2 linked regions of the Homo sapiens genome follow. The protein of the gene in region 2 purifies or fractionates together with the protein of the main gene of each other region. This does not show direct contact. Each region holds a gene or a part of one and is shown on either strand. Other genes may lie near its edges.

Evidence for each region.
Region 1: the proteins of WASHC5 (region 2) and FKBP15 purify together in Homo sapiens (affinity purification with western blotting; 2 studies listed by BioGRID, with this or other methods). This does not show direct contact.

The regions. Positions count from the first base shown.
Region 1 is NC_000009.12:113,202,205-113,219,016, forward strand, and holds part of FKBP15 (FK506-binding protein 15), read right to left. Parts: intron 9,389-16,812; coding exon 9,273-9,388; intron 5,093-9,272; coding exon 5,008-5,092; intron 4,375-5,007; coding exon 4,305-4,374; intron 832-4,304; coding exon 757-831; intron 426-756; coding exon 327-425; intron 1-326. UniProt on the Homo sapiens protein: May be involved in the cytoskeletal organization of neuronal growth cones. Seems to be inactive as a PPIase. Involved in the transport of early endosomes at the level of transition between microfilament-based and microtubule-based movement.
Region 2 is NC_000008.11:125,017,429-125,034,240, forward strand, and holds the end of WASHC5 (WASH complex subunit 5), read right to left. Parts: intron 14,967-16,812; coding exon 14,813-14,966; intron 11,280-14,812; coding exon 11,192-11,279; intron 7,246-11,191; coding exon 7,189-7,245; 3' UTR 6,832-7,188; downstream 1-6,831. Other genes in the region: SQLE (squalene monooxygenase), read left to right, coding at 631-773, 1,203-1,299, 3,356-3,443, 4,325-4,517. UniProt on the Homo sapiens protein: Acts as a component of the WASH core complex that functions as a nucleation-promoting factor (NPF) at the surface of endosomes, where it recruits and activates the Arp2/3 complex to induce actin polymerization, playing a key role in the fission of tubules that serve as transport intermediates during endosome sorting.

The sequences.
Region 1 (16,812 bases), on a different chromosome or scaffold from region 2:
ATTCTTTGAAAACACTATTTTTTAAAGATAGTTTTATTTATTCCTTAAGATAATTTATGTAGTAGAAAATTTTTTAATATAATAAGATTACATTTAGTCTTTCTCTGTTAAAAAAGAAAAAGGCTAAATTGTCAAGCAGTTTCAGTAAGTATTCCTATTATTTTCCTGAAATCATACAATAGGCCGAAGTGGCAAATTTAGTGGGTTTTTTATGCTAGTCACTAACAAAACACAGCAGATTATGGGTTTTCTATATGTTTCCCTAAAATTAAGGGAAATCCAAACAAGTATTTTGGCTTTTCACAGGGAGAGTAAGATGTTATCACCTGCTTATTGAACTCCACAGCAGCCTTTTCCGACTCAAACATGATGGACCAGTTCTGTCTCTGGTCATCATAAAAGGTGCTATAGTTATTGGGCCGAACCTGGAGAAAGGAGAAATGTTAAATTCATCCACAAGCAGTATTATACCAGATAAACATGACGGCCTAAGCTCATAGAGTAGGGTCTTGACTCAGGTGGACCCAAAGGGAACTATCAGAGATCTTTCTTCTTCCCTCTCACCCTCTACGATTCACCCTTCAGTCCACATTCCTAGAAGGAGCCAAGAGACCTTTCTGAAAGGTTCTGTTAGATACTCACAAGGACACCCAGGGCTGAACCAGTGGATCTAATTTCTATTAGGTACAATCAGACCAGTCTCTCCTGTAAACCTATCCCGAAGGAGCTAATGATTCCAATATGATGAAGTCTTACCATTAGCTCAAAGTTCACATGAATCCTAGCAACCGTAACTGGCTGTTGTTGACTGATATAAAGAAGAATCCTATACTGTAGACAAGCAACGACAGATAGAAAAAAAAAAAGAGAGACAGCAGAAGTTAAAAGGCAATATAAAATCAGCAATATAAAATCAGCAATAAGTATCAAAGGTTGTGCTTCATACTAAACTCAAAATCTATTCATCCTTTAAGGCTTCAACTTTAAATTTTATCTTCTCACTATCCACATTAATCTCTTCTCATTTTGGTCTTACTGTTTAACTGTAATTGGCAATGTCTTCATTTTGTTGGTGTTTTCATTTATACAAGGGGTGACTAAGAGTGGCTGGTTGTGTAAAAGAAAATACAAATTGTTTTTAAATTGATGAAAAACATAAAATACATGTTCATTATACATATATGTGCCCACGTGACCATCAACCAGATTTAAAAAATAGCAGAGCATTTCCCACACCACAGGAAGCTCCCTCATGCCCTTCCTAGTCAATAATCCCCACCCTGAGATAACCAATATTCTGACTTCTGTCGCTGATTAATTTTGCTTTTTTTTTTTTTCTTTTTGAGACAGAGTCTCTCTGTCGCCCAGGCTGGAGTGCAGTGGCGCAATCTCGGCTCACTGCAACCACTGCCTCCCGGGTTCAAGCAATTCTCCTGCCTCAGGCTCCCGAGCAGCTGAGACTACAGGTGCACGCCACCACACCCTACTAATTTTGTATTTTTAGTAGAGACCAGGTTTCACCATGTTGGCCAGGCTGGTCTTGAACTCCTGACCTCAGGTGATCCGCCCACCTTGGCCTCCCAAAGTGCTGAGATTACAGGTGTGAGCCACCGCACCCAGACAATTTTGCTATTCTTAAATTTGTATAAATAGGATTATACAGAGTATACTCTTTTGTCTTGCTTCTTTCACTCACCGTATCTATAAGAGTAAGCCTTGATACTTCATGTTCCAGGACTTTATTCTCTTTTATTGTCATGTAGTATTCTATTATGTGAATATACCATAAACTCTTCATTCATTCTCCTGTTTATGAACATTTGAGTTGTTTCCAGCTAGAGGCTATTATGAATGATACTTCTATGAACATTCTCCACGTCATTTTTTTTTGAGATGACGTTTCACTCTTGTTGCCCAGGCTGGAGTGCAATGGCATGATCTCAGCTTACCGCAACCTCCACCTCCCAGGTTCAAGCAATTCTCCTGCCCCAGCCTCCCAAGTAGCTGGGATTACAGGCATGTGCCATCACACCTGGCTAATTTTTTTGTATTTTTAGTAGACACGGGGTTTCTCCATGTTGGTCAGGCTGGCCTTGAACTCCCGACCTCAGCCTTGGCTTTCCAAAGTGCTGGGATTGCAGGCGTAAGCCACCGCGCCCAGCCTCTCCATGTCTTTTGAAAGACACAGACATTCGTTTCCCTCAACTTAAAGAATGTCCTTTAATGTTCCTTGTAGTGCAAATCTACTACAATGAATTCTCTCACTTTTGTTTGGCTGAAAATTTATTTTGCCTTCATTTTTGAAGGATATTTTTGTTGCTATAGAATTCTGTAATAGGCAGGGTTTTGTTTTCCTTTCAGTACTTTAAAGATATAATTCTACTGTCTTTGGATTCCAATTACATGGACGTTAGACCATGTCCCACATCAATCTTTGCCCTGGTCTCTTTCTATTATTTCTTCTCTCTGTGCTTCAGTCTGAATATTTTCTATGTTACTGCCTTCGAAGTCACTAATTCTGTCTCCTGCTGTATTCTGACTCTGTTAAACCCATCCAATATGTTCTTAGTTTCAGAAATTGTATTTTTCAAATCTAGACTGCCATGTGATTATTCTTATAGATTCTAACTTTTTAAATTCTCCATCTTTTCATCCCTTTTGTACTTTTCCTCTATTTTCTTTAAGATATTATTCCTAGTTGTTTTAAGTGCCTTGTATGTTAACTGCAATATCTAGGTTATTTGTGAGTCTGCTCCTAGTTTATTTGTTCCCTTGATTATTAGTTACATTTTCCCACCTCTTCACATGTCAAGTAATTTTTTACCGTAGGCCCAACTTGTATATAAAACAACATGAGGGATAAAATCATAAAACTCTTAGAAGAAAACGTAGAGGTGAATCGTCATGACCTTGGTTTTGGTAATGGATTCTCAGATAAAACACCAAAAGTACAAGTAACAAAAGAAAAAACTTGATAATATGGACTTCACCAAAATTAAAAACTTTTGTACATCAAAGGACATTATCAAGAAAGTGAAAAGATAATCTATAAAATATCTGCAAATAAGGGTTTAATACTCAGAATATATTAAAAGACTACTACAACTCCACAACAAAAAGACAAACAATCCAATTTTTAAAATGGACAAAGGGCTTGAGTAGACATCTCTCCACAGAAAATACATGAATGGTCAATAAGCAAATGAAAAGATACTCAACATTAGACATTGGGTAAAATGCACATTAAAACCACAATAAAGTACCATTCCACACCTACTAGAATGGCAAGAATTTAAAAATAATAATAATAACAAAATGCTGGCAAGGATGTGAAGAAACTGAAACCCTCATACATTGCTTGTGGGAATGTGAAATGGTGTGGCTGCTGTGGAAAACAGTTTGGCAGTTTCTCAAAAAGTGGTACATAAAATTACCATACGAGTCAGCAATTTCCACTCTTAGTATACAGCCAAAATAGGAACTTGACCATATACTTTTATGTCAGTCTTCACGATACATACTTTTTTTGTCTATTCCCAATAGACAAAAGGTATAAACAACCCAGTGTCCATCAACTGATGAATGAATAAACAAAATGTGGTATATACCTACAATGAAATATTTTTCAGCCATGAAAAGGAATGAAATACTGATGCATGCTATAACATGGGTGAACCTTCAGGACATTATGTGAAATGAAATACATCAGTCACCAAAGACAAATACTGTTATGATTCCACCTATATTAGGTACCTAGAAAGGGCAAATTCATAAAAACAAGAAGAGATTTGACCTTATGGGCAGCTGGGAAAAAGGAAGAAGTAGAGTTATTGCTTAATGGTTACACTTTCTGTTTGGGAAATGGATAGTAGTGATGGTTGCTCAATCAATACTGTGAATGCAATTAATGGCACTGGATTATGCACTTAAAAATGGTTAAATGGCAAATTTTATCTTATATATACATATGTATGTGTATATATATGTGTGTATTTGTGTATGTGTGTGTACACACGCACCCCACAATTGAACAACAAACAAACAAAAAAATGCCCAAATTCTTAAGCTAGGATCATATCACAAAGGTCAAATTTAACAATTTTGAATGGTTGGATTTGTTTTAACGCACAATAGTAAGCAAAATGTGATCATTTACTATATGCTTGATGTTATAAATTAACATTCAATACAAATAATCATCCTTATCTTCTGATAAACAAGACATCGGGCAAGCCAGATAAAAGCCAGCTCATTGGTATTATTTGGGACATCTGAATATACATGAGATGTGGGAGCACTCTCACCTCTCTGGCTGTGTGGTTCCCCAGAACTGCAGCACCAAATTTGCCCTGCTTTACATATTGACCATTTGTGCTATAAAAGGAAGAGAAACAACAAGTATTAATACTTCCCTAAATTCTGCAGAACCAGCTTTCTTTTCTGTCATACAGAAGTGGGAACAACAGTCATTCAGCCTCTAGGCAGGGACACAGGTGAGCGGTTTAAAATTTTTTTTTTTTTTTTTTTTTTTGAGACAGAGTCTCGCTCTGTCACCAGGCTGGAGTGCAGTGACATGATCTTGGCTCACTGCAACCTCTGCCTCCCAGGTTCAAGCAATTCTTCTGCCTCGGCCTCCCAAAGTGCTGGGATTACAGGAGTGCGCCACCGCACCCGGCCCAGCAGTTTATAATTTAAAGCTCATATACTATTCCCTTACTCTTTAAATATAAATATCTATCATTCATGCTATCTCAGTGGAGAGGCTTTCTTTGAGCATTTGACAGCTGTTGAGGGTACAAGCACTCCCTAAAGACAGTAGACAAGATAATGGCTTTTCAAGTTTTACCACAGAAATCTCCAATTCAGATGTTAAAAGTTCTACTGATATTTTGTCCGTGGAAGGGCTAAATAACCGTTTTGCAACAAACAGAGGTTTTTCGAGAAAAAGTAGCTTAACTGCACGCCCTTCCACCAAACTTCAGAGGGTGTTCCTTCTCAGCGACTTACTATCGATATGCATGGACTGCTGTTGCGACCAGTATTGTGGGAGTGCTCATGGTGGCTGGTGCTGTTTTTGGTGTTGCCTGATTTCCTGAAGATGAACAAGAAAACAAAGTTGTCATTCACTTCTTGCTTTAAACTAATTTTTTTTAAAGACGGAGTTTCACTTTGTCACCCAGGCTGGAGTGCAGTGGCGTGATCTCGGTTCACTGCAACCTCCACCTCCCGGGTTCAAGCCATTCTCCTGCCTCAGCCTCATGAGTAGCTGGGATTCCAGTTGCGTGCCACCACATCCGGCTAATTTTTGTATTTTTAGTAGAGATGGGGTTTCACCATGTTGGACAGGCTGGTCTTGAACTCCTGACCTCGTGATCCACCTGCCTCAGCCTCCCAAAGTGCTGGAATTACAGGCGTGAGCTACTGTACCTGGCCTTAAACTAATTTTTAACCACTGAACTAGCTTCAAAATTGATCTTTATAATTTACAGTCAGTGTTGTAATGCTTTTATGATTATCCTTATTTGATCCACAAAGCAGCCCTATGATCTAGTCTGGGGGTGAAGAAACTGAGGTTCTAATCACCCAAGTGCCTCACACAATTATACCATGATAGTGCCTAGGTCTGAAACCCATGACTCCAACTCCCAACCCACACACCCCAAATAAGTCTTTGGCTAGACAAGGAGTACTGTCTAAAAAGTGATAGTCCATCTATTTTATTTTCTCCTTCCAGTATTTTGACAGCTATAATATATGAAAATAAAGTTATTTCCCCTTCCCTGTCTTCTAGGGTGGGAAATTCAGTAAGATATTTAAATCACACCCATTAATTAACTTCACAAAGTACTACAGAGTAGGCTGGGCGCAGTGGCTCGTGCCTGTAATCCCAGCACTTTGGCAGGCCGAGGCAGGTGGATCACGAGGAGTTCGAGACCAGCCTGGCCAATATGGTGAAACCTTATCTCTACTAAAAATACAAAAATTAGCTGGGGGTGGTGGCGCGCACCTGTAGTCCCAGCTACTCATGAGGCTGAAGAGGAAGAATCGCTTGAGCCTGGGAGGCAGAGGTTGCAGTGAGCTGAGATCGCACCACTGCACCCCAGCCTGGGTGATGGAATGAGACTCCGTCTCAAAAAAAACAAAAAAACAACAAAAAAAAGGGACTACAGAGTAACACTAACATTTTCAAATACCATGTTAAGAGTAAATCACATTTATACTCACTATATGAATGTGATGGAAGAGTAGTGAGATAATACTGATGCGGACATGACATGCAAGAACTTATATTTTGAAAGAACTCGTTTGATTTTTTCTGTATTAACACTTTTTTTTCTGATTATAGAGTACAAGTGCATTGTAGGAAACTTAGAAAATACAGAAACACATAAATTAAAATGCAACATTTTTGTGTGTACTTCCAGTTATCTTCTTATAATAAATTCCTTAAAATGGAATTATGGGGTAAAGGAGTATAAAAAATTTAAGGTTTGGTTACATCCTGTCCAACTGTTCCTCAGGCTGGACGAGATGGCTCACACAGGTAATCCCAGCACTTTGGGAAACAGAGGTGGGCAGATCACTTGTGGTCAGGAGTTTGAGACCAGTCTGGCCAACATGGTGAAACCCCATCTCTACTAAAAATACAAAAATTAGCCAGGTATGGTGGGTGCACCTGGAGTCCCAGGTACTTGGGAGGCTGAGGCATGAGAATCACTTGAAACACAGGAGGCAGAGATTGCAATGAGCTGAGATCATGCCACCGCACTCCAGCCTGGGTGACAGAGCGAGACTCCATCTCAAAAAAAAAAAAAAAAAAAAAATTCCCTTGAACAGAGAGGGACTTCTGTATTGCTACTTTATTTATTTGTAAATGCCTAAAGAAAACTGTATAGGCAATCTTGCTTCTATAGCTCCCTGCTAAAAGTGTAATAAACTCATAGTTGCTGTCTTCTGATTTAAATAATCAAGTTAGCCAGGTGCAGTGGCCAGGAGTTCAAGGCCGTAGTGCACTGTGATGGCACCTGTGAATAGCCACTACATTCCAGCCTGGGCAGCAAAGCAAGACTCTGTTTCTAAAATTAAGTACAATAAAAAATAAAAATAAAAAACCAAGTGTTTTCATTGGGTGGGAACTAAGGTTGTTTCTTTTTCTCCCATTAACTCAACCACTTTAACTCTGAAGCACACTGCTGATGAAGAGATGTGCCACAGGAAATATAAAAGCATAGCCTACTAGAAATCTGGCCAGGTTATGAGTTGGAGAATAAGAGAAGCACCTACAGCAAAACTGCCTAAAGTAATAGGTAATATTTAAAGCAGGGATCGGCAAACATTTTCTGTAAAGGGCCTATAGGCTGTGGTATAATATGAAATATGTTTGGTCTTTGTCCTTGGTTCCTGACACACTGCTCCCAAATCCCTTGTAATTTCCTGAGTGATAAGAGTGGTAGGAACATCTTTTGTATAATCCAATTTTAGCCAGCATGATAAGGAAGGAAGTCTTCTCTGCTTTAACCTACACAACAAAAGTAACTTTGAAATGACCAATTGTTTTTTGTTCTGTTTCTGCTTTCTTCAGCACTTTTCTGCCTATAAAGCCAACCTCCTCTGCTCAGCTCATCACAACATTCCATTTTATAGAATGAAGTGTTGCCCAATTCTAGAATCTCAAATAAAAGCCAATTAAGATCTTAAAACTCCATGTGTTATAACTGTATCTTTTGACAATGCTAATGAGGTGACTTAGAGTGGGGCCCTAGAGGGGTGGAGGCTCAGGATGGAGCCTACAGCTAACCTGTCCAGATAAAAGAAGTGAAAAGTAGGTCTTCCTTCTCACCAAAACACTGGACAGTGCCTACTTAGAGTGCCTTGGACAGAGTTTGGGAGAGCGGTGTCCATATGGGGCAGAAGGCCTTGCTTTCGAACCTCTCCATCAGTTCCCAACAAAGCGCACGCTATCTAGCTGCTAGAAATCAGGATCCCAGATCTTAGAGAAGCACTCACCACTGGGGGTGAGCTTAGCCAGACTGGTCAAGGATACACAACCTGGCATGTCACTTTTGGAAGGCTGCTAACCCTTCCATCTAACCTGTTAAGGCACAATCCTAGTGCCAGTTGTGATGGCTTTTTTTTTTTTTTTTTTTGAGACGGAGTCTTGCTCTGTTGCCAGGCTGGAGTGCAGTGGCGTGATCTTGGCTCACTGCAACCTCCGCCTCCCGGCTTCAAGCAATTCTCCTGCCTCAGCCTCCCAAGTAGCTGGGACTACAGGCAAGCGCCACCATGCCCAGCTAATTTTTGTACTTTTAGTAGAGACAGGGTTTCACCATGTTGGCCAGAATCGTCTCGATCTCTTGACCTCGTGATCTGCTCACCTCGGCCTCCCGAAGTGATGGCTAATATTTAGTGTCAACTTGATTGGATTGAAGTACACAAAGTATTGTTCCTGGGTGTGTCTGTGAGGGTGTTGCCAAAGGAGATTAACATCTGAGTCAGTGGACTGGGAAAGGCAAACCCACCCTCAATCTTGTTGGGCACTATCTAATCAACTGCCAGCGTGGCTAGTATAAGGCAGGCAGAAGAAGGTGGAAGGGGCTGACTTGCTGAGTCTTCCGACTTTCATCTTTCTCCTGCGCTGGATGCTTTCTGCCGTCGAACATCAGACTCCAAGTTCTTTGGCTTTTGGACTCTTGGACTTACACTAGCGGTTGGCCAGAGGCTCTCAGGCCTGCAGCCACAGACTGAAGGCTGCACTGTCGGCTTCCCTACTTTTGAGGTTTTGAGACTCGGACTGATCCACTACTGGCTTCCTTGTTCTTCAACTTGCAGACAGCCTATCATGGGGCTTTACCTTGTGATCGTGTGAGTCAGTTCTCCTCAATAAACTCACTTTCACACATACGTATATTCTATTAGCTCTGTCCCTCTAGAGAACCCTAATACACTCTTGTTTTTATTTTGTTTCAGTTTTGTTTTGTTTTTTGAGACAGAGTCTCGCTCTGTTGCCCAGGCTGGAGTACAGTGGCTCACTGCAACCTCTGCCTCCTGGGTTCAAGAGATCCTCCGGCCTCAGCCCCCCTAGTAGCTGGGATTACAGGCACACGCCACCACACCTGGCTAATTTTTGTATTTTTTTTAGAGATGGGGTTTTGCCATCTTGGCCAGGCTGGTCTCAAACTCCTGACCTCAGGTGATCCACCGGCCTCGGCCTCCCAAAGTGCTGGGATTACAGGCATTAGCCACCTCGCTCGGCTAATACACTCTTAACTTACCTGTTGCTGCCGTTCCCTGGCCTTTCTTAGGCTGTTTTGGGGCTGTGTACTGGAAAAATTCATTTCCATGGCCAGCAGCTGCCTGATCCAGTCCAAAAAGTGAGGCCAATCTGGCACTGTTAGTAGAAAATGAAAAATGAAATTTCACTGATATATCCCAAACCTGGAATTATTATAAAAGCTGCTCATCTCCAACCTTGAACAAATACCTCCTTGACTACATCCCACCATTCAATACTAGAAACACTTCAAGCTAGGAAAGCTGATTTAAAAATTAAAAAAAAAAATAAATAAAAATATTGGACACAGCAAAGTGTCTTTGAAATCAAGATTGTGTATGTGATTTGAACATCATCAGTTGACCCTGTTTATCCCCAGGACCTTGGTCAAGGCATTTCTTTTTTCTGGACCTCAGTTTTTCCACCTATAAACTGAAGTGACTAGTTCAGGTGCTCTCTATGGTATCTTCAAACTGTAAATTCTTGCTTTTAGCAAATCACAGTTTCTAGTCACCCTTACTGACTACTCCCCCTCCTGCTTTTTACTAGTTTATTCAATTGAAATGAAGCTATGATACAAACTTACCCATCAAACATGGTCCCTGCCATCCTTTCATCTAACAGAACCATTCTTTCATCATCCCTTGCAAGAAATCTTATCCCCCACCATTCCACTGAAACTGATCTTGCTAAAATCACTAAAAATTTTTTTGTTTGTTTTTGTTTTTTTTTAGATGGAGTTTCACTCTGTTGCCCAGGCTGGAGTGCAGTGGTGTGATCCCGGCTCACTGCAACCTCCGCTTCCCAGGTTCAAGTGATTCTCCTGCCTCAGCCTCCCAAGTAGCTGGGACTACAGGCGCGTGTCACCACACCCGGCTAATTTTTGTATTTTTAGTAGAGACGGGGTTTCACCATGCTGGCCAGGCTGGTCTCGAACTCCTGACCTCAAGTGATCCACCCACCTCGGCCTCCCAAAGTGCTGGGATTACAGGTGTGAGCCACCAGGCCCATCCGATCACCAACAACTTCTTTGCTACTAACCCCAGTTTACCAGTCCTTATTTCACCTCATACCACCTTTTTATACTGTCAATTAACTTGTTCTTCTTCAAATTCTTCTCTTGACTTCTGCAGGGGTTGTGGAAGGAACAGGTCCAAATAAGATATCAATAAATACTAATGCAATCCCTGGCTTGTTTTGCCCCATTTCTCTGGCTTCTCTTTAACCCCTTGGGCTCTTCTTCTTCATTTGCCCAATCTTTAAATGTCCATGTCTCCAGGGCTTCATACTTTCTCTCCCTTGGTAGGGTTTCATACTGTCTCTCTGTACTCATTTACCTTGGTATCAAATGCTATCCAAATGCTGGTGATGCTCAAATCTGCATTCCCAGCCCAGAACTTGCTCTTGAGTGCCAGAAAACATAGATATCCCACAGGCAATACAAATGTAACATGTCCAAACCAGAACTCATATCCTCCAATGCCCACTGCCCCAGCAAAACCTGTTCTTCCTTTTGTGCTCCAAGACCACTGCCAGGTTCAAGGATTCTAGAGAAGGACTCAATGGTCTCAGCATATAGTGGTACTCATGGCTAAGATCTATTACAAAAAAATATACAGAAAAATCAGCAAAAATAAAAAGTGCACAGGTCGGCTGGGCACAGTGGCTCATACCCGTAATCCCAGCATTTTGGGAGGCTGAGATGGGAGGATCACTTGAGGTCAGGCGTTCGAGACCAGCCTGACCAACATGGTGAAACCCTATCTCTACTAAAAGTACAAAAATTAGCCGGGCGTGGTGGCACGCACCTGTAATCCCAGCTACTCGGGAGGCTGAGGCAGGAGAATCGCCTGAACCAAGGAGGCAGATGTTGCAGTGAGCTGAGATCACGCCACTGCACTCCAGCCTAGGCAACGAGAGCGAAACTCCGTCTCCAAAAAAAAAAAAAATTATCCAGTCTTGGTGGTAAACGCCTGGAGTCCTAGCGGCTTGAGAGGCTGAGGCAGGAGGCTCAACTGAGCCCAGGAGTTTGAGACTACAGTGAGCTATGATCATGTCACTGCATTACAGCCTAGGTGACAGAGCAAGACCCTGTCTCCCCCGAACCAAAAAAAAAAAAAGGATTACTAGATTATCATAAATGTCATGGGAATGAGACTGGTGGCGTTATAAGAAGAGGAAGAAAGATCTGAGCTAGTATGCTTGCCATGTGATGCCCCATGCCATCTCAGGACCCTGCAGAGAGTTCCTACCAAGAAGAAGACCTTCACCACATGCAGCCCTTCTGACCTTGAACTTCTCAGCCTCCATAACTGTAAAAAATAAATTCCTTTTCTTTATCACACTTTAGGTATTCTGTTATAAGCAACAGAAAACAGACTAAGATATCAGCCAAGAGCCAACCTTGTAAGCAGGGCTTTTTAGGAATAATAGTCTCAGGCTTGCTGTGTTAACTCTTTAAAACAATTTTTTTTTAGAGACAGGGTCTCAATCTGTCACCAGGCTAGAGTGCAGTGGGGCGTTCATGGCTCACTGCAGCTTTTGCCTCCAGGGCTCAACCAATCCTCCCACCTCAGCCTCCCAAATAGCTGAGACTACAGGCATGCACCACCACACTCTAGGGATTCTCCCACCTCAGCCTCTCAAGAAGCTGGGACTACAGGCATGCACCAAGAAACCTGGCTAATTTCTATATTTTTTGTAGAGACAGGGTTTCACCATGTTGCCCAGGCTGCTCTTGAACTCCTGGGCTCAAGTGATCCACCCACCTTGGCCTCCCAAAGTTCTGGGATTACAGGTGTGAGCCACTGTGCTTAGCCATGAAATGTATTTCTTAAATGGTAAGACCTGATCTGAGGTGCAGAATGGATGTTGTGTTAGCAGGCATGAAAACAACATTAATCTTATACATCTCCATCAGAGTTTGTGAGTGACCAAGTACACTGTCAATGGGCAGTAATAATTTGAAAGAAGGCTTTTTTTTTCTGAACAGTGGGTCTCAACAGTGCATTTAAAATATTCAGTAAACTATGCTATAAACAGATGTGCTGTCATCCAGGCTTTGTTCCATTTGCAGAGCACAGGCAGAGTAAATTTAGCATAATGCCTAAGGGCCCTAGGATTTTTGGAATGGTACATGAGCAACGGCTTCAACTTTAAGTCACCAGCTGCATTATCCCCTAATAAGAGTTAAGCCTGTCCTTTGAAGTTTTGAAGCCAAGCATTGACTTCTCCTCTCTAGCCATGAAAGTCCTAGATCTTCTTCCAATAGAAAGCTGTTTTGTCTACACTGAAAATCCGTTGTTTGGTGTAGCCACCATCACCAGTTCTCTTTGCTAGAACTTCTAGTAACTTGCTGCAGCTTGCAATCACTTGCTCCTTCATCTAGCACTTTCATGCTATGAAGACGGCTTCTTTCCTTCAACCTCATGAACCAACCTCTGCTCACTTCCAGCTTTTCTTCTGCAGCATCCTCACCTCGCTCAGCCTTCACAGAATTGAAAAGAGTTAGGGCCTTGCTCTGAATTAGGCTTTGGTTTAAGGAAATTTGTGACTGGTTTGATGTTCTATCAGATTCCCTTAAACTTTCTCCATGTCAGCAATAAGGCTGTTTTGCTTTCTCATCATTTGTGTGTTCACTGGAGTAGCACTTTTAATTTCCTTTAAGAATGTTTCCTTTGCATTCACAATATGGCTAACTGGCACAAGAGGCCTAGCTTTTGGCCTATCTTTGTTTACACGCCTTCCTCACAAAGCTTAATCATTTCTACTTTTTTTAAAGCAAGAGATGTGCAACTCTTCCTTTCACTTAAACACTTGAGGTCGTTGTAGGGTTATTAATTGGCCTAATGCCAATATTGCTGAGTCATGGAGTATAGGTAGGCTCAAGAAGAGATAAAAAAAAAAAAAATAGAGAACTGCCAGTCAGTGGAGCAGTCAGAACATACACAACATTTATCAATTAAGTTCACTATTTTATGTGAGCGTGGTTTGTGGCAACAACAATTACAGTAACACCAAAGATCACACCATAACAGATATAATACCATTGAAAAAGTTTGAAATATTCAGAGGATATATGTGTGTGTATATATAAACATATATACATATGTGTGAATATATATGTGTGCGTGTGTGTGTGTGTGTGTGTATATATATATATATATATATTTTTTTTTTTTTTTTTTTTTTTGAGATGCAGTCTCACTCTGTCGCCCAGGCAGGAGTGCAGTGGCCCAATCTCGGCTCACTACAACCTCCGCCTCCTGGGTTCAAGCGATTCACATGCCTCAGCCTCCCAAATTGCTAGGATTACAGGCGTGCATCACCATGCCCTGCTAATTTCTGTATTTTTTAGTAGAAACAGGGTTTTGCTATGTTGGCCAGGCTGGTTGCAAACTCCTGGCCTCAAGTGATCCACCCGCCTCAGCCTCCCAAAATGCTGGGATTATAGGTGTGAGCCATTGCAACTGACCAAGAGAATATTTTTGAATATTAAGAGAATTACCAAAATGTGACACGGAGACACGAAGGGAGGAATTTTGCTGTTGGCAAAATGATGCCAATAGACTCACTCAACACGGGGTTGGACACAACCTTTATTTTGTGAAAAAAAAAAAAAAAAAAATCTGCAAGGCACAATAAAGCAAACCGAAAAAAAAAAAAAGGGGGTATGCCCAGTGTCTGGTATGTAACAGGCTCAGTAAATGAATTCAAAGTCTAGTCTGGCTCTGAGCACTTCTTCTCCAAAGGCATCCTTAGTTTAGGTGAAGTAAACATTGAAACTTCCCAACAAGTTATTTTGGCTTTTCAGGTTTTTTTAAAACAAGTTTTATGTATAGAGAAATATGCACTAGCATTTTACAAAATAAATTTTATATGACTTGAAACTATTACCTTCTTTTCTCAAAGTAGTCTAATGTAAGTTTAAGTTTCCTGTAAATAGGCCAGAAATGCCTACTGTAAAGGACTAAGAGGTTTAAATGAGATTGTAAACGCAATGCTTGAGTGAGAGCAGCGCTGGCCTAAAAAGACATCACCAAATGCTTATGGAATTTAGAAGACAGCAAGATTTGTCCTTTCAGGCAGGAAAATTCGGGCAAATTGCCTAAAGAATAAGATTCTGGAAGAGTTGGGTTTCACTATCTTTAACACAGTGAAAAATGTACAAAGCTTAGCACCTAGTTAAGATAACATAGCTTATGCACAGATTACTGATAAGAAATGAATGTCCTTGTTAGCTTCAGTAAACCATGAGTATTGGGCTTGCTGTTTTAATTTTGCAGGTATAGCCTTTTTAAAAGGAAAGACAAGAGTGTCATAAGTGAACTGTGTTTCCATAGATGTTCTAAAGACCAGCCAACTGAAGACTACAAAGTCGATCCAAAAGCCAGGTCAACCTAATTAGTTTTCAGATTAATTCCATTTTCTTTTTTTTTTTTTTTTTTGAGACGGAATTTTGCTCTTGGCGTCCAGGCTGGAGTGCAATGGCAGGATCTCGGCTGTGCAACCTCCACCTCCAGGCTTCAAGCGATTCTCCTGCCTCAGCCTCCTGAGCACCCGAGATTACAGGTGCCCGCCACCAGGCCTGGCTAATTTTTGTATTTTTAGTAGAGATGGGGTTTCACCACATTGGCCAGGCTGGTCTTGCACTCCTGACCTCAGGTGATCCACCTGCCTCAGCCTCCCAAAGTGCTGGGATTACAGGTGTGAGCCACCACGCCCAGTTTTTTTTTTTTTTTTTTTTTTTTTTAATGAGACGGAGTCTTGCTTTGTCACCCAGGCTGGAGTGCAGTGGCACGACCTTGGCTCACTGCAACCTCTGCCTCCCAGATTCAAGCGATTCTCCTACCTCAGCCTCCCACGTAGCTGGGATTATAGGCACCTGCCACCACACCCAGTTAATTTTTGTATGTTTGTAGAGACGGGGTTTCATTGTGTTGGCCAGGCTGGTCTCGAACTCCTGACCTCATGATCCACCTGCGTTGGCCTCCCAAAGTGCTGGGATTACAAGCGTGAACCACCACGCACAGTCCCATTTTCTATTAATATCTTTAATGGACTCTGCATCAACTTGGGAGATAAGTTACTTGTAAATTTTTAGCAGGGCATGGTGGCTCACTCTCAGAGGCTGAGACAGGAGGACTGCTTGAGGCCAGGAGTTCAAGACTAGCCTGAGCAATATAGCAAGAACCCATCTTTACAAAAAATTAAAAATTAGCCAGGCGTGGTGGCATGCGCCTGTAATCCCAGCTACTTGGGAGACTGAGGCAAGTGGATTGCTTGAGCCCAGGAGTTCGAAGCTGCAGTGAGCCATGACTGCACCAGTGCACTCCAGCCTGGGCAACAGAGAAAAACCCTGTCTCAAAAAAATAAATAAATAAACAAAAATAAATAAATTTTTAGATTTTTCCACTACTAAGGAACTCTCAAATGTACACAATCTCCCTATGTTGGCAAGAATGAGCTTGCTAACTCTGGACTTGAATCTATATTTATAATTCATAGGAAAAGTCATGACAGAATTAACTACATTAAAAAAAAATGTTAGACAATGCATTTAGTCGCCAAGGACCTCACCTCACCTCAGTTTTATATTTTCTTTCTCATCAAAAACAAAAACACATGCATTTATACTGTATCAATGTATTTTAATAAACAGAGATTCTTTTTGTTGGTAAAGTATTAATACTTTTTTAAACAAACTGACATCAAACATCCATTTCAATAATAACAACAATAGCACATAGGCAGGTCTGGTAGAATCTGCCTACCTGATTTCAGATCCAGGCTCTATTACTTTCTAGCTGCATGATCTTGGGCAATTTACCTCTCTGAGCCTTTCCCATTTGTAAAACGGATATAATAATTAATAGTACCTCATAGAGAGGAGTAAATACAATTATATATATATATATATATATATATATATATATATACATTTCTCATTTGTAAAATGGGCATAGTAGGTAAAATTATTTCATAGAGTAGAAGGGAGGAATAAATACAATAATGTCTATGTATTTCTTAGAACAGTGTATGGCATTAAGTAAGCACAGAGTACGTATTTATATACTTGTGAACACATCCTATTATCTCAAAATGTGGTTCAACTCAGATACCCCTGCAAGGGTGAAAGCATGCTTGATTGACACGGAAGTTGACCTGCAACCATAAACTGGTATTAGCATTAACATTAAAACTACAGAACTGGCAAAGGTCTCAAAGTTTATCTAGGTCAAACCTCATTATTGAATAGGTTGGGGTATGGAGGGACAAGGATGGAAGATAATCTGTCCAAAGTCACATTCCTAACTGGGGATAGAATCAACATTTGAATCTAGGCTTTTTCCTATCTTTTACAGAACTCAAAATGCTTTCTGATGATCGGTTAATTTATCTTTCTACCATCTTTAGACTGGTGATTTATCATTACTATGCTAATCGGATCTGCCTACACATACCTTTATAATCTAAAACAAATATATACATAATTGGCCCCTTAAAAATGCTTTGTGATTATTATTCCTGGATTGATTTTA
Region 2 (16,812 bases):
CTGCTGCTGGTGTTCACTCAAGGCTCCAGGGCTCTTCAGTCAGCTGGTGGTGAATGCTGCCAGACCTGGGTCTCTCCCTTCAGTACAATGGGCTCCCCTCTCACCCAGGACGGATCCAAAAATGCTGTCCAGGTGCCAAGACCTAGAATCAGGGACCCCAGGAACCCACTTGGTGCTCTGTCTCACTGGCCAAGCTGGTACCCAGGCTGACTTTTGGTTCTTATGAAGGTGCTTTCCTGTGTGGGAGGGGGATGATCGCCAGAGGACTTGCTTTGTATACCTGGATACCTGTAGATTCTTTTTATTTTCTTCATATTTTAAGGAGGCCTTACAAATGTATTGACATTATTGGACTTGTCATTAGGTTTGTATATGAGCTTCATGAGGGCAGAGGCCACACTCTTGTTATTACCATATCCCCAGTGCCTGGCCACCTATTAGGTACCCAACATTGATTCAAACAACTCTTGAATTTTTGCCTCAGCAAATTTTAATCATGATTTGTTTTCATGTATTTTCACATTTTTCTTATTATTAGCTTACATCAGTAATCTTTATACATTGAGTTATCCTTTTTGTTTTGTCTCAAGGGATGCTCTAAAATAAAATCTTCATTACCTCTCTTCATAGGTGTTCTTCTTTTGGGAGACGCATATAATATGAGGCATCCACTTACTGGTGGAGGAATGACTGTTGCTTTTAAAGATATAAAACTATGGAGAAAACTGCTAAAGGGTATCCCTGACCTTTATGATGATGCAGCTATTTTCGAGGTAAGATCAATTATTTTGACAAAAATGTCTCAAAATGGATTTATTTCTGGGGGTTAAGAGCAGTGGGGCTCTGATGGGGAGATCTGTACTAAGGAACCTGATGCTTTATAATAGCTCTTAGGCATCTTGCTTAGGCTTAAAGAACCTGACTTGCAACCTGTGAATCTTAGAGAATTTCTAAATTTGAATATTATGTAACACTTGATTGCTATGGGCCACTTAGCTCATAGTGGTTGTAAATTTAGCTTCAGTGTCATATAACCCATTGCTCTGAAGGTGATTTTTTATTTTTTTTGTAAATGATAAACATAAGGCAATATTACTTGCAGATAGTCCTTAGAAGGATAAGTATCAGTTTGAGGGGATTATAAACATCAGTTTGTGCTTTTTTATCCTTACCATATAATAAATGAGCTATTTCTTTTTTAGGCCAAAAAATCATTTTACTGGGCAAGAAAAACATCTCATTCCTTTGTCGTGAATATCCTTGCTCAGGCTCTTTATGAATTATTTTCTGCCACAGATGGTAAGTGTAGACACTTTTTAGTGAATATTACTCAATTGCAGATTTTTAGCGTAGGAAAGGAATAAACAAGTTAGTGATTTGTCCAGAAATAAAAATGTTACCTGAGTTTGCTAACTCCCAAGTTGGTAGTTTTTTAAAATTCCATTTTGAGCAATAGTTGTAGTTTTAGTTTTAGTTTGGAAGGTAGTGGAATTTCCTTAGACAACATTAATAGCAATGCCTCAGTAACATATTCATTATTTTGAATTCCTCTGGTGCAGACTAGATCATGCTTGTCCTCACACACACAAGACTGTGATGGAAGGTGTTTTTGGCCATGTATTAAAAGGCAATGTAGTCTTTTTCTTCCTAACACTAGTTTCAATTTCTTTTTAAAGTAGTATTTTATAAAATGAATACAAGCTGTTAATCTTGTCCCTGTTGAAAAGCACAAGTAACAATGCATTCACCCTTTACTTATTTGGATTATTTTGGTGCTTTTGTTACTGTTTCCATATTATACAGAGGTCACGGTCAATGTATATATTAGAGAAAACACAACTTAGCAGAAGCAGTGTTAGAAATGGAGGAAAAGAGGCCAGGCGAAATGATTCATGCCTGTAATCCCAGCACTTCAGGAGGCCAAGGCAGGAGGATCGCTTAAAGCCAGGAGTTTCACACCAACCTGGACAATAAAGCAAGACCCCATCTCTACAAAAAATTAAAAGATCAGCAAGGCATGGTGGCGTGTGCCTGTAGTCCCAGCTATTTGGGACTATATAGCTCACTACAGTGAGCTATATATAGTGAGCTATATGAAGTGCCACTGCACTCAGCCTGGGCAACAGAGTGAGACTTCATCTTCTAAAACAAACAAACAAAAAATTAAAAGAAATGGAGGAGAAAAGGCAACTGTGCCACCTCCTCACCACAGCAGTGTACACATCAGTTTAATAGTAGGTTAATGAAACTAGGCTTTTCAGTTTTCAAGAATAAATACTGACTCATATGCCACTACTCTAGTATATTTGCAACATAGCTATTTGTATGATCTGGCTGAGGCCCTAGTGATAAGTGCTGTGGTTATAATTACAAAAGATGATACAATAAAAATGCTTTCTGTAGCCTCTATAACCATTAACTCTTCCTAAGGAAAAAAAACAAAACAAAAACCCCACCAATCTCACTGGTTATGATTTTTCCAAACAAATTTCTCTTGCTAAATTGGCATAGAAGTTAAAATGGCTGGTTGGGCAAATGAAAGTAACTAAGTTTAGAGTTTTGGGCAAATAAAAAGAACTAAGTTTAGAGTTTTGGGCAAATAAAAAGAACTAAATTTAAGAGTTTTTCTGAGCTCTTCTTTCTAAGCTTTTCTAACTTCTTGAGTTCTTAACATTATGAATTTAAATCTACCAACAAAACAACATTTTTTAAAAGTTACAAGATTGGAGGAGGAAAGACCTTTATTGGAGCAAAAGTTTACCTGTTGCATCCTTTACTTTTTAAAATCTGTTGTAAAGAAAAATCTGGGCATACCTGAACAGAACATTGATTCTAAATGGTTAAAAAGGTTATCAATTGATTACACTACATTGTGAGGGTTTTATGAGTTACTTTGAAAGGTATTAAAAACTTTATAGATATAAGGAATTATTATTTATCGCTACTCACAGCTCTCTTCACTTGATAATTTACTGCTTAGTTAGAGATACTGGTTGGACATCTTAGAGACTGGGAATTTGGTTTCTAGAATTGTGTTAAAAAGAGCTTCCAAAGTATTTTGCATCACTTAATGAATTAACAGCAAAATCAAGGAAGTACCTTTTAAACAACTCTTCCAAGACCTAAATATTAGTAGTTATTTACTAACAGAAAAAAGTTTATTCATATTTATATTACTCTCCATAATGCTGATTATGGAATTCAGAAGAAATCCTGGTTGTTGAAATTCTAGGACTAGATATTTAAAAATTATCTGCAAGATGTAGCGTTTGTTATTTCTCATTTTTTCTGATATATCATTAGCATCCTACATAAGTGTGTACACATATTTGATTATTTTACAATTTTATTTTAGATTCCCTGCATCAACTAAGAAAAGCCTGTTTTCTTTATTTCAAACTTGGTGGCGAATGTGTTGCGGGTCCTGTTGGGCTGCTTTCTGTGTAAGTTGTGATGGCACAGAGGATACAAACCTGCCAGATTTTCTTAGGACTGTTCAGTTGATGAATTACTGCAAATCTTTCTTCCTTACACATTTTGATATTTTATTATCTGTTAGTATCCCAATGAGAAGGTGGCCCAAAGAAATGAAGAAACGCAATATTTAGTACTGTTTTCTTTCTAGGGAACAGCAGTTAAAGGTGGTGGTAGAGGAAGCTATAACCCTTGATTAAAATAGAAGCTTGTTTTTTGCCTATGGATTTATCCATATGTTCTGGTCTGTGGGAGCCAGGAATAATTGAGAAATTTTAATTTAAGAATTAGTTTCATTGAAGTACGGGGACTTATACAACCCAGTATTAGTTTTGAGCGTACAGACATATGTGGAACTATTCTTGGAAAGTCTACAAAGTGAAATCTATCGAGTTATTTCTCATTTGCAAAGTGATCCTTTGAGTCATTTCTCATAATCTATAATCTGAATGTTAATACTGATATTTTTAAAAGCCCTACATCCCAACAGACCAGGCCATCTAGATATTTCAGCGTGGTGTCTCAGGATGAGTAAACAAACAGCTAAAAATATATGACTTATGTAAACTAGAGTTACAGGAGTTACTAGCTTTTCTGAAAGGGATATATTCTAAGTATTTTTTCTTAAAAAAAAAAAAAGGGGGGTGGGGGGTTTGCTCCTGCCATCAAACTTAACATGCAGACATATTTGTGACGTCCTCTAAAATGTAGAATGTTTCATACAGAATTATGATGCTTGGGTAAAAAAAAGTAGGATGTTTGTTGAGCTTCGTAGATTATATGTAATTGGAACCTTTGGAGTAAATTTTAGTTTCTGAGTCTTACCAATATGTATTTTTTTCTATTACAGATTGTCTCCTAACCCTCTAGTTTTAATTGGACACTTCTTTGCTGTTGCAATCTATGCCGTGTATTTTTGCTTTAAGTCAGAACCTTGGATTACAAAACCTCGAGCCCTTCTCAGTAGTGGTGCTGTATTGTACAAAGCGTGTTCTGTAATATTTCCTCTAATTTACTCAGAAATGAAGTATATGGTTCATTAAGCTTAAAGGGGAACCATTTGTGAATGAATATTTGGAACTTACCAAGTCCTAAGAGACTTTTGGAAGAGGATATATATAGCATAGTACCATACCACTTATAAAGTGGAAACTCTTGGACCAAGATTTGGATTAATTTGTTTTTGAAGTTTTTTGTATATAAATATGTAAATACATGCTTTAATTTGCAATTTAAAATGAAGGGGTTAAATAAGTTAGACATTTAAAAGAAATGATTGTTACCATAAATTAGTGCTAATGCTGAGGAGAACTACAGTTTTTCTTTTGAATTTAGTATTTGAGATGAGTTGTTGGGACATGCAAATAAAATGAAGAATGAACTTTCGTGTCTTTTTGTTTCTTGTTGTGGGCTCGTTTACATAGCTTCATGATAATGAAAAAGAAAACCAAAGTGGGATGAAAAGTGCAGAGGGAAACCTGTTCTATTAAATAACTGGGGAAGTTGCCTTAATGTCTTGACCTTGATTTCCTCATCTATCCAGTGAAGCAATTTGATAAGGTTATTTTCTTTAAAAAAAATTACTTATTTATTTATTTATTTTATTTTGGGGCTGTGACTCAGATTTGAACCGAAAGGTTCTTTGCTGAGTTCTCTGAAAATATCAGATTCTGACAGGAAAGGCAATCAAGGGCTTTATAAGTTCCACTGTATAGCAACATTTATAAGGCAGCCCAGGATGACATCAAGAAACAGTGAGTGAACAAGTAAGCACTTGTAATACCCGGCATAATACCTTAAAATCCGTTAGGATTTACTGAGTTTATCTATAGTAAATTTGAAGAGACTATGGATGTTCAAAGGGTATCATCATAAAAGTTCAGTAAATCTCCAAATACCATGAAAGTAAATTGTTACTTCTGAAAGAGCAGTAAAATATAACCTGGCAAATGAAGTTACTACTTGAGATTCTAACAGGGCTAAAATATAACTTACAAAGCTTTTACAATAAAAATTTCAATTTTTAAGTTTTTTCAGTTGAAAAAAATTCTTCACTGGCCAAATCACTAGCAAAATCAGTTTCAAACATCACTGCCTTGTTTTAGTAGAGCATATGGTGGACCCATTTGCTTGGTTTCGTAAGATTCCCATCTAACTGACCCTAAACTTCTATTTTCTGGTTAAAAACTCACTTTCCCAGATCTGGCCTTCTTAGCAGTTAGTTAGCTTTCTTTTTCGAGAACAAAGATCTCACTTCATGTGGTTATTGTTAACAAGATTACAAATGAAAAATAACACGCTATCGTTGAGATATAGATGTTCCCACACACCGTCTTTGCAGGGGGTGAGACTTCCAAGCTCCCTACGTACCAAGCAACAGTTCTCTTAAAATTCTGCCCTGGCCTCGGTGCCCTCATGGCCAGGATTCGAGGTTACCCTTGTTCGCCACTGAGACTCCTTTAAAGTCCTTTCTACTATGATAGTGAAATAATCAAAGCCTGTAAAGTCTTTTCTTCCCTTCAATATCAGAATTTGAGGCCTTCTGACAAAAGAAATAAAATGAGAAAACCGAAGGAACCTGAGAAATCCTTTAGTCCTAATTTTACAGATGATGCCAGTAGGCTGGCTTGGGACAAGGTGTAGCTTGTGGCAGAACCAGGACTCAAACTTACCCTCCTGATTGCAAATCAGTACATCTTCCCCCACCACTAGCAAAATGACTGTCAAACAGATTTTGGCTTCTGGGTTTGGTTTGGTTTGTTCCTTCCTCTCCAGAGAAGGACATAACCATAGAGATTTAGGGTGGAAACATCTTTCTTGCTCTCATCCAAGTTGTTGATACCCAAGTTGCCACAGTAGGATGGCAGTGATATGGTGTGGCTCTGTGTCCCCACCCATATTTCTTCATAGCAGTGTGAGAACAGACTAATAGTGGCAGCTTCCTTTTCAGGGTAATTTTCATGCAGAAATGATTTAGGATTTCGAGGGAGTTAAGCTTATGGGAAGGCTATTACCAAAAAGGACTCTGGATAATGATACGGTTGTGGGGACTTGGGGCAGGACTCAGGTTGCTGAGGAAGATACCGGAAGGAGCAGCTTTGTTAAGGAGTCCTACAGAAGGAATGCTGTGGACCCCCTAGGGCATGTGGGATTGGAAGAGGATGATGAGACACCAAGAAACTTCAATGGCACATGACACAGATTGTGTGGCCACTACATTTGCTACTAGTCTGGCTATCACCACGTGCCTGCCAGCTTGTTGGGGGTGAGCTATTATACCTAGCAGAGTCATCTCTTATTCCAAACAGGGTTTTTTACAGGGTGAATACACAGTTTTTGAATCATAAGCGAGACGACTTTGGGTACTAGTAATACTATTTTACTGAAAATCTGGAGTTGCACAAATAGTTCTTTAGAACATAAAACTAAATGGATTTATACATAACAGTTACATTCAGCATTTAAGAGAGGCAGTACAAAAATGTGTTCTGCTTTTATCTGATATAAATTGCATGTAATACCATGATTTAAACAATATCAGTTATATTAACTAATGCCATGAGATATATCTTACTCAGAACGTCTGATGTTTCCCATAATAGACAGAAAAAATGCAGTTGTATGAGCAACTGAGTTTCTTTTCATCTTCAAATTCATTTGTGATGGTGGGAAGATCTAAGGACAATCCTTCCATTGAAGAAGTAGGAAAAACAGTTACAGCACTGTTCTGAACTCATCAAAAATGAAATTAGGCACATGTGCTTCAGCAACCTGAAAAATTAAAGAATTAAATTATTCATGGTGTTATAGTTGAACAATTACAAAATTTTCATACGTAAAAGAAAAGATATCCTTGGAGCAAGGTGAATAATAGAAGAGGAGACTCCCATGGGCGGACGACTCCTTGAAACAGCCCCTTTCTGCTTGTGGTGCCCCCTAGACTAGCGTCTCATTTCTTGGCACTGCTAACATTTGAGGGGATGCAGTACAGCTCTCCCGCCTCCAAATCTGAGCTTCTTGGCTCTTAAAGGTACCTTGATCTGCGAGGAATGTTCTTGCCTCTGGGAAGTACTGACAAGTACTCAGGTCACCTAATACACTTCATTAACTGATGACCAACAAGGAAGAACAGGATGGCTGGCAAGTGATGGGGTTGGAGAGGTAGGGGAGGGCAGGAATGAGAATGAGATACCAAGGCCAGAAGGGGAAGAGCAGGAAGGCCTTCAGAGGCATGCATTCCTGAACTGTTCTTGGGCAAAGCCCTGAGAAGACTAAATTGGGCTCAGTTGGGTAGAATGTAGAGGTAGGTGATCTCCAAGTGCTGGAGATGAGTATTTTTTAGAAGCAGTGTTTAATTTTTTTTCTGATCATAAAGGTATAACCTGCTAATGAGAGGAAATTTAGCAAATGCAGAAGAGTATAAAAATTATTTTTACAGTGGGTGGAGGGCAAGGGGAGGGAGAGCATTAGTATAAATACCTAATACATGTGAGGCTTAAAACCTAGGCTGGGCGTGGTGGCTCACGCCTGTAATCCTGGCACTTTGGGAGGCTGAGGTGGGTGGATCATGAGGTCAGGAGTTCAAGACCAGCCTGACTAACATGGAGAAATCCCATCTCTACTGAAAATAAAAAAATCAGCAGGGCGTGGTGGTACGCATCTGTAATCACAGCTACTCAGGAGGCTGAGGCAGGAGAATCACTTGAACCAGGGAGGCGGAGGCTGTAGTGAGCCCAGATCTCACTACTGCACTCCAGCCTGGCGACAGATGGCACATGTATAATACCTATGTAACAAACCTGCACATTCTGCACGTGTAGCCCAGAGCTTAAAATTTAAAAAAATATTTTTTTAATCTTAATCCCTTAAAGAAAATAAAAACTGGCAACTTTTGTAATGAATTTTTCCAGTTTACTTACATATGCAGACAGACACACACACACACACACACACACAATCAAAATTAGGATCACATAATATTGTGTCCTTCTCTACCTCTGCTAAATCTTATATTATGAACATCCTTGGGCACATATCTTGGTAAACCTTTGCACATATATCCAGCAGGTAAAATTCCTAGCAGTGGAATTGCTGGGATCAGGGTAAGTATATTACAAATGTTTTTTTAAAATAGATAAAGCTAAATTGCCCTCCTCAAAGGCTGTCAATTTACATTCCAATTAATAGCACTTACAAGTCCCATTTCTCCAAATGCTTCCGAATAATGGGGGCCCAACATTTTACCTTTCACCAACCTGATAAGTGGAAACAGTAATTTTCGTATTTGGATTTTTGTCCCTTGAATCCGAAGGTTTGTCATTTCTATTTTCTTGAAAACTGCCTCTTAATTTCCTTTGCCCTTCCCCTGCTTTTTTTCTATTGGCTTGGACATCTTTTTCATACTGAACTTGAAGATTTGAAGAGCACACTATAAATCAAGAAACTAGTCCTTTGTTGGTATTTCCTCTTTTGTCTTTTGTTTTTTAACTGAGACACTGACACAGAATTAATTACATTCAGCATTTATAAAAAATCAAGTCTCTAAATCTTTTTCTTTATAGTTTCTTCTTTTGGTTTTATACTTAGGAATTTCTGAGAGCTGATACATATTTGCCTAAAATTTCGGCTAATTTATTTGTTTCATATTTCACACTAACCCTTTATCTGTAATTAATTTTGATAACATAGGAGATGTAAAGGGGACTAAGTTGCTATTTTTTTAACTGTGTGAACTTACATCTATTGACTAATATTCCCTTTCTCTCTTAATTTGAGATGCTACTTTTCCTTATGTACCATTGTATGCACAGGGTGTGTTTCTAGGCTACATATTCTTGCTCATTGTTCCTTCTATTTAGTTGCATACCAGTAGCACCCTATTTTGGTTTCTACAGTTTTACAGTGTTTTAATACTTGATATAATATTTTAATATCTTTTTTTTAAAAAAGGACTTGCCTAAGTCCTATGACATTTTAAAAAATATATTCTTTGAAGTTAAAAAAGTACCTGAAATCTTGATTGTAACTGCAGTAAACCTATAAACTAGATAGAACTATTATCTCTGTAATATTCGAGGACCCTCATTCAGAAACATGGACTTTCAAATTTTATATTTAAAATTTTTATAGTTTTTTAATAAAGTGTTCTTTCATATTTCTTATAGAGGTTATTCTTAGCTATATCATTGCCTTGTTATTTCTGTGAATAGGTCCTTTTTCACACTGTATTTTTTAATCGATTGATGTATTTCATACATTTATTCTGTAGCCAGCTTGTTTTCTGATCTCTGTATTATTTTGATAGTTTTTCACATGATTCTATTGGGTATTCAAGGAAGACAGTTATGCAGCAATCCCACTACTGGGTAACTACCCAGAGGAAAAGAAGTCATTATTCAAAAAAGATACCTGCACATGCATGTTTACAGCAGTACAATTTACAATTGCAAAATCGTGGAACCAACCTAAGTGTCCATCAATCAATGAGTGGATAAAGAAATTGTGATATATACATACGATGGAATGCTACGCAGCCATAAAAAAGAATGAATTAACAGCATTTGCAGTGACCCGGATGAGACTGGAGATTATTCTTACAAGTGAAGTAACTCAGGAATGGAAAACCAAACATCGTATATTCCTACTGATATGTGGGAGCTAAGCTATGAGGACGCAAAGGCATAAGAATTATACAATGGACTTTGGGGACTTGGAGGGAAGAATGGGAGGGGAGTGAGGATAAAATACTACAAATATGGTGCAGTGTATACTGCTCAGGTGATGGGTGCATCAAAATCTCACAAATCACCACTAAAGAACTTACTCATGTAACCAAATACCACCTGTATCCCAATAACTTATGGAAAAATAGAATAAAAAAGGAAGACAATTAATCTCAAATAATACAGAGTTTGTCTTCTTTCCAATATGCATTTTATTTTCATTTCATTTCTTATTGTCTTGCACCTGTATAACAAAAGTAGTTGCAAGAGTCTGTATAGTTGTCATGACACTGTGACAGTCCTGGCTTTAATGGGAATGCCACTAACATTTCACTATTATGTACTGACATTGCTAGTTAATTTTAAAAGTTCATCTTTGGCTCATGTTGTAAGAAAGTATCTTTGATTCCTAACCTACTAATTTCTAAAAATCAAATGATTTTCAGTATCTGCTGAAAGTTGTATTTTTCAGTATCAAGCTCTCCACTTTGAGCTAAAATTTAACAAAGTGGAATTACTAATGAGAAAGGGATAGGAAAGAATGTCTTGGCAGGTAAAAAGTAGTCTGCCATTTTTGGAAACAGTGCTCATATATACATTTAGTTGTGGCATGAACTTAACTGTGCTTGCTGTGGGAACCAGGTCAGTGGAGAGAGAAAGAACAAACCACCATGATTATTTCTTTCCTCTGGCCACTTAAGGAATCCCTCCTGGCTTGCCTATTTCACTTAACTCCTGAACCAGATGAGTTGCTGACAGGAGTACATGGTGGAGAGGAAGAAGAGGCGGGAGGGGCATTGTGTTAAACTCTGCAAGGCAATTCCCATGGTGGAAAAGGCAAGGACATTTCAGAGCTGGGGGTAGAGCAGTGGCGAGAGGCGCAGAGGCATCTACTGTGAACGACCTATTGGGCTTCACTCCTGATGAATCCAGGGCCACTATTATTAGCATCTTTTTACAACTATTAATATTGTTCTTTACTATCTATCACTTACCCTCCTGGGTAGCTTTGTGTACCGAACATAATCCTCCAGGAACAGAAGGGCACCCACAACATCTGCAGGAATTTCAGGTATCTTCTGGCTGTGATAGAGAACAGTTTAGATCAATTAACTGCTTTGCACATCATAAGCCCTTTTGGTCAGAATCCTGAAAGACTAAATTACCAACAGATTACCTAATGAAGTCAAAGATGAACAAAAACATTGAGCATGCTCTTAATTCCTGTCAAGTTGTTACCTTGCTCATGTATTTTCAGGAGCCCACCCCATAGGGTAAATGTGAGCTTCTCTATACGGTTTCCATGGGCGTTTACAACACGATCCCTGCTATCTATCCAGACTCATCTCCCTCTGTTTACATGATTCAATACCTAGCAGGTCCCATACTTTCCCATCCCTGCACACTTTTTTTTTTTTTTTTTTGCGACAGACTTTTCACTCTTGTAGCCAGGCTGGAGTGCAGTGGTATGATCTCGGCTCACTGCAACCTCCGCCTCCCGGGTTCAAGTGATTCTCCAGCCTCAGCCTCCCGACTGGCTGGGATTACAGATGCACGCCAGCATGCCTGGCTAATTTTTTGTATTTTTAGTAGAGACGGGGTTTCACCATGTTGGCCAGGCTGGTCTTGAACTCCTGACCTCAGGTGATCCACCCGCCCTGGCCTCCCAAAGTGTTGGGATTACAGGCGTGAGCCACCGCACCTGGCCTGCACACTGATTTGAAAGTAAACTTCTAGACATTGTTCGAGTCTCAGCTTGGGTACTTCTCCTGTGGAATCCTCCCTGATTCTCCTGGGCTGTCATAATAGTTAGCAGCATTCTCCAAGCCTCTTAATTTTTCAATGGTGTGCTGGGTTCCCATCAGGAGTATAAACTCCTCGAGGGCCTAGGTCATATGTTCATCTTTGTTTCTCCAGCATCTGGAAATGTGCTTGGCATGTACTGCATATTTGACGGTATCAAATAAATACAGCATCTAGCAATTTTTCATATGGGATTTTACTCATGTATTCATTCATTCAGCAACTACAGTGCCAAGCACTGTTCCAGAGCTGGGAATACAGCAAAGTACATGCCAGGCTCCTTATAGAGCTAACGTTCCTTCTTGTTTACATCAAAAGGAGTTTTTAGGTGTTAAAACGATTTCCAATTCCTGTACCAATTGGCATTTTCTGATTAACAAATAACTTTTAGTACTATTAATACATTACTGGTTAATTTCGCTGATGAACTTTGCTTTTTGAATGGGTTAAGAATGACTGTACCTGGAAAAATTCTCCCTGCTCTCAATCTTTCAATCTGTGACCAGGGCTATATTTGCTCTGCTTGGAGCAAGAGAAAGGAAGGAATTCCCATGCGTCACAGGTTCCTTAGATTCCTTTGCTCTGCTGAATCAGAAAGCCTGACTTACAGCTGGTCTCCTGTAGCCTGATCACCACCCTCAGGGTTGCCAATAACATGCTGGACTAGAGCCACACTTAAGCCTTTACTGCCATTAGTGAAAAAGAAAGAGAGGAAGAAGAACCTGTCCAAGTTGACAGCTAGGGAGCTACAATTGGGACAGCCAGTTGTGTGGAGGTTACTTGCTAATCACCTCCGCACCACCTGAACTGGAGTCCTTCCCCTCCTCTCTGGGAGCCTGGGCCAGAGGCGCTGGGTTTTTATGAGCCTACTGCTTTCCTTGCCAACTGACCTCACTTCGTGATTGTTACAATTTCATTTTTGAGACTTTGAGTTCTCCTCTATTTTTCAATTGTTAAAAAATCTTGTTTCTGAAGCAAGTCTTAACATCTATCCCAGGAAAACACCAGTGTTTGTTGTTCGATTCATTAACTAAGAGGAGGAGGAGCTGGCCTGACTGCAGCTCACGGGAAATAACGACATTGGGGTTTAGAAAGAATGCAAAATCAGTAGGAGCCACTGGTATGCACTGGATGTCAAGAAACCCATCACTGCAAAGCCGAGATCACGCCACTGCACTCCAACCTGGGCGACAGAGCGACTCTTTCTCATAAAAAAAAAAAAAAAAAAAAAAAAAAGGACTCATCACTGCAATTGTAGCTGCTGTACTGTCCACAGAGGGCCCAGAATGAAGACGTGTAATACTCCTCTGTGCCAAGGGGAGGGCTGTGCTTGGAATCTCAATACAAGTTTGGGAAGCCACATTTTAAGATGGTCAAAAACAGACTGGAACACCCAGAAAAAGTCACTCACTATGGTGAGCAGCCTCTAAACTGCAAGACATCGGGAACAGGTGGAAGGGGCTTATCTAAACATTGAGAAGACCTAAGACAACAGATGGCATACAAAATCGGAAGTGATGTTGCAAAGGAGGGAGACTGCATTATTCTGTATGATTTCAAAAGGTAGGAAAAAGCTCAGCGAGTGAAACATCCAGAGACACAGGTTCTAATAATCACAATCAGGAACTTTCTAATGAGAACAAGACTTAGCCAGTGGACTGTGCTGCCTGGAGAGGTAGCACAAGCCCCCTCGGTGAGAGTGTTCCAGCAGTGGCTGCATGACTACCTGTCAAGGATGTCCTAGAGCTCATTCATGCACTTAGTGGGAGGTCAATTAAATGACCTCGAAAATCATTTCCAGTTTTAGGACTTAGTAGTATTTTGTGTGGACTTAGAAGATCACTTTGGTTCGTTTTATTTTTTTTGAGATGGAGTCTCGCTCTGTCACCCAGGCTGGAGTGCAGTGGCATGATCTCAGCTCACTGCACCTCTGAGGCCTCCTGGGTTCAAGCAATCCTCCTGCCTCAGCCTCCTGAGTAGCTGGGATTACAGGTGGCCACCACTACATGTGGTTAATTTTTGTGTTTTTTTAGTAGAGATGGGGTTTCACCATGTTGGCCAGGCTGGTCCTGAACTCCTGACCTCAAGTAATCTACCCAAAGTGTTGGGATTACAGGCTTGAGCCACTGTGCCCAGCCGCTTTGATTCGTTTTTTACATTATAGTGGCAAAAATGACCAAGCAAACATGACAGCAAAGGTTATGTAGCCAGGCTGACCCTTTAGGATAGCAGAGAAGGAGGCACAGGACCCAGCATCTCATGGAAATAACTTTTTTTTCTTTATCCCAGAAAAGCCACATTTAGGGGCAGGGGAAAAGAACTGGCAGGAATTAAAGTTTTATAAGCATTGTATCAAATAGCAACTCTTGTGAAATTTGCTTCTCTACATGCAGACACTGCCCAGGCTTTGACACACTGATATGTTCTCTGACTCCCACTGAAGTGAGTGGAATCATCTCTTGGCAGTGGCCCAGCAGGAGTGCAGGGGCTCGCTGAGATTGAAGAGCTGCATCCAAGAGTGCAGAGGAACAGGGCTGCACTTTCTTCCCCATGGTAGTTACTATTCATGGTCCTGAGTCACTCCTGGAAAATCAATGTGAGTAGACCGGATGGAGTTCCCCTGGCAGGGTGACTAAGGATGGACACACCTGTAATTGCTCTAAACAAGGAGGTATGCCCTGACTTGCTTTACAGAGAAGGGTGAGCAACCATTTCCCATCTCTATTAGGGCGATAAGAGGAATTTGGTAATGTGAGGTTTAAGTTAGGTTTTGTGACAAGAAGTCCCACGTAGTCCTGGTTGGTCTTCTGTACCTTGTACACTGCTCCACCGTGGAGCAGATAAACTGGCCAATCAGCGCCAGGAACTGCTCGGTGTACCGGGAATGGAACTGCTTCAGCAGAGTGAGCAGTCCCAGGACAAGTGGTGGCCAATCAACCGGGTCGGTCGGTTTTCGGCAGACCATTCCTGCAAGGGAACAAGTTGCAACACCATATGAAGTACTTGCCTTCAGCAACATTCATTAAATACCAACGCTGTGAAGGTCAAAATGTTTGGGGCCCATATTCTCGCTGGCAGATGATATTTTGGAGGGAATGACAATTCTGGGCCATATTTTGAATTAGCCACAGGATTGGTAGGGCATTCCAGGGGTCTGAAGGATTCAAAACCAATAAAACGGTTACTAAATTTTGTAATTATCATTACTGGTTCTTTTGAATTACTCAATTAACATATATTATTGTAGCAATTTTTAAAGATACAGATAAATGTAAATGAGAAAAAAAATCACTACAACTGACTTCTGTTAACGGCAGCATGACATACTAGATACCCTGAACTACTATCTTAAGTGAAAAGCTGGATAAAATACTTTTAGGGTATCTTTAAACAAATGTTGAGTAATATATATACATAAAGAATCTGCAGAAATCAAGAGAGTGGAAGAAGGATATTTATGAAGTGAATGAGTATCAAAGCTGGCCTTTACACTAACGATTTTTTAAAAATTGGAGATGGGGTCTTGCTATGTTGCCCAGGCTGGAGTGCAGTGGCTATTCGCAGGTGCAATCACAGCACATTATAGCCTTGAATTCCAGGGCTCAAGCTGGGACTATAGGTGTGTACCACTGCACCTGGCTCTACACTAAAGATTTCTGCCAAAATGTGGAGACCCTGACCTCTGCCTGGGTGGCTGCATGGGAAACCAGAGACAGAGATTAGGGTCTTCCAGAAGAAACACAATGTTGAAAAAGAACAGTGTTGGGAAGGTTTAGGTTGCCTGATTTCAAGCTCTCTATACAGTTTCAATAATTAAGACACTATGGCATAAGAACAGACAAATAGATCAATGGAACAGAATAGAGTCTAGAGATAGTCCCACCCTTCTATGAGTAATTGAATAGTCACAAATATACCAAATAATAAAAAAAGATAAATCTTTTAACAAATGGTACTGAAACTGGATAGTCTTATGGGGGAACGACAAACCTTGACCCCTATCTCATACTGTACACAAAAAACAATTAGAGATGAACCACTGGCCTCAATGTAAAAGCAAAGACTACAGAACTGTAAGAAAAAATATCGAAGATATCTTTGTGACCTTGAAGAAGGCAGAGATTTCTTTTTTTTTTTTTTGAGACGGAGCTCACTATGTCACCTAGGCTGGAGGGCAGTGGCACAATCTCGGCTCACTGCAACCTCTGCCTCCCAGGTTCTAGCGATTCTCCTGCCTCAGCCTCCCAAGTAGCTGGGATTACAGGCGTGTGCCACCACGTCTGGCTAATTTTTGTGTTTTTAGTAGAGACGGGTTTCACTATGTTGACCAGGCTGGTCTCAAACTCCTGACCTCAGGTGATCCTCTCGTCTCAGCCTCCCAAAATGCTGGGATTACAGGCATGGGCCACTGTGCCTGGCCTGGCAGAGATTTCTTAGACAAGACAAAAAAGAATAATTATAAAGGAAAAAAATGGATAAACTGGACACCATCAACAGTAAAAACTTCTGCTCATTAAAGTTACCAGTAAAAAAATACATAGATAAGTCACAATATTCTCAAAACATATCTAATAAGGAACTTGTATCCATAATATATACATAACTACTACAACTCTGTAATAAAAAAAAAATTTAAAAACGAGCATAAGACTAGAACAGGCACTTCGCAGAGAAGGATATAAGGAATGGCCAATAAGCACATGAAAAAGTGCTCAAAATCATTAATCATCAGGGAGGCAAATTAAAGCTGCAACAAGATACCATAGATACCCATCAGGATGGCTAAAATGGGCTGGGTTCAGTGGCTTATGCC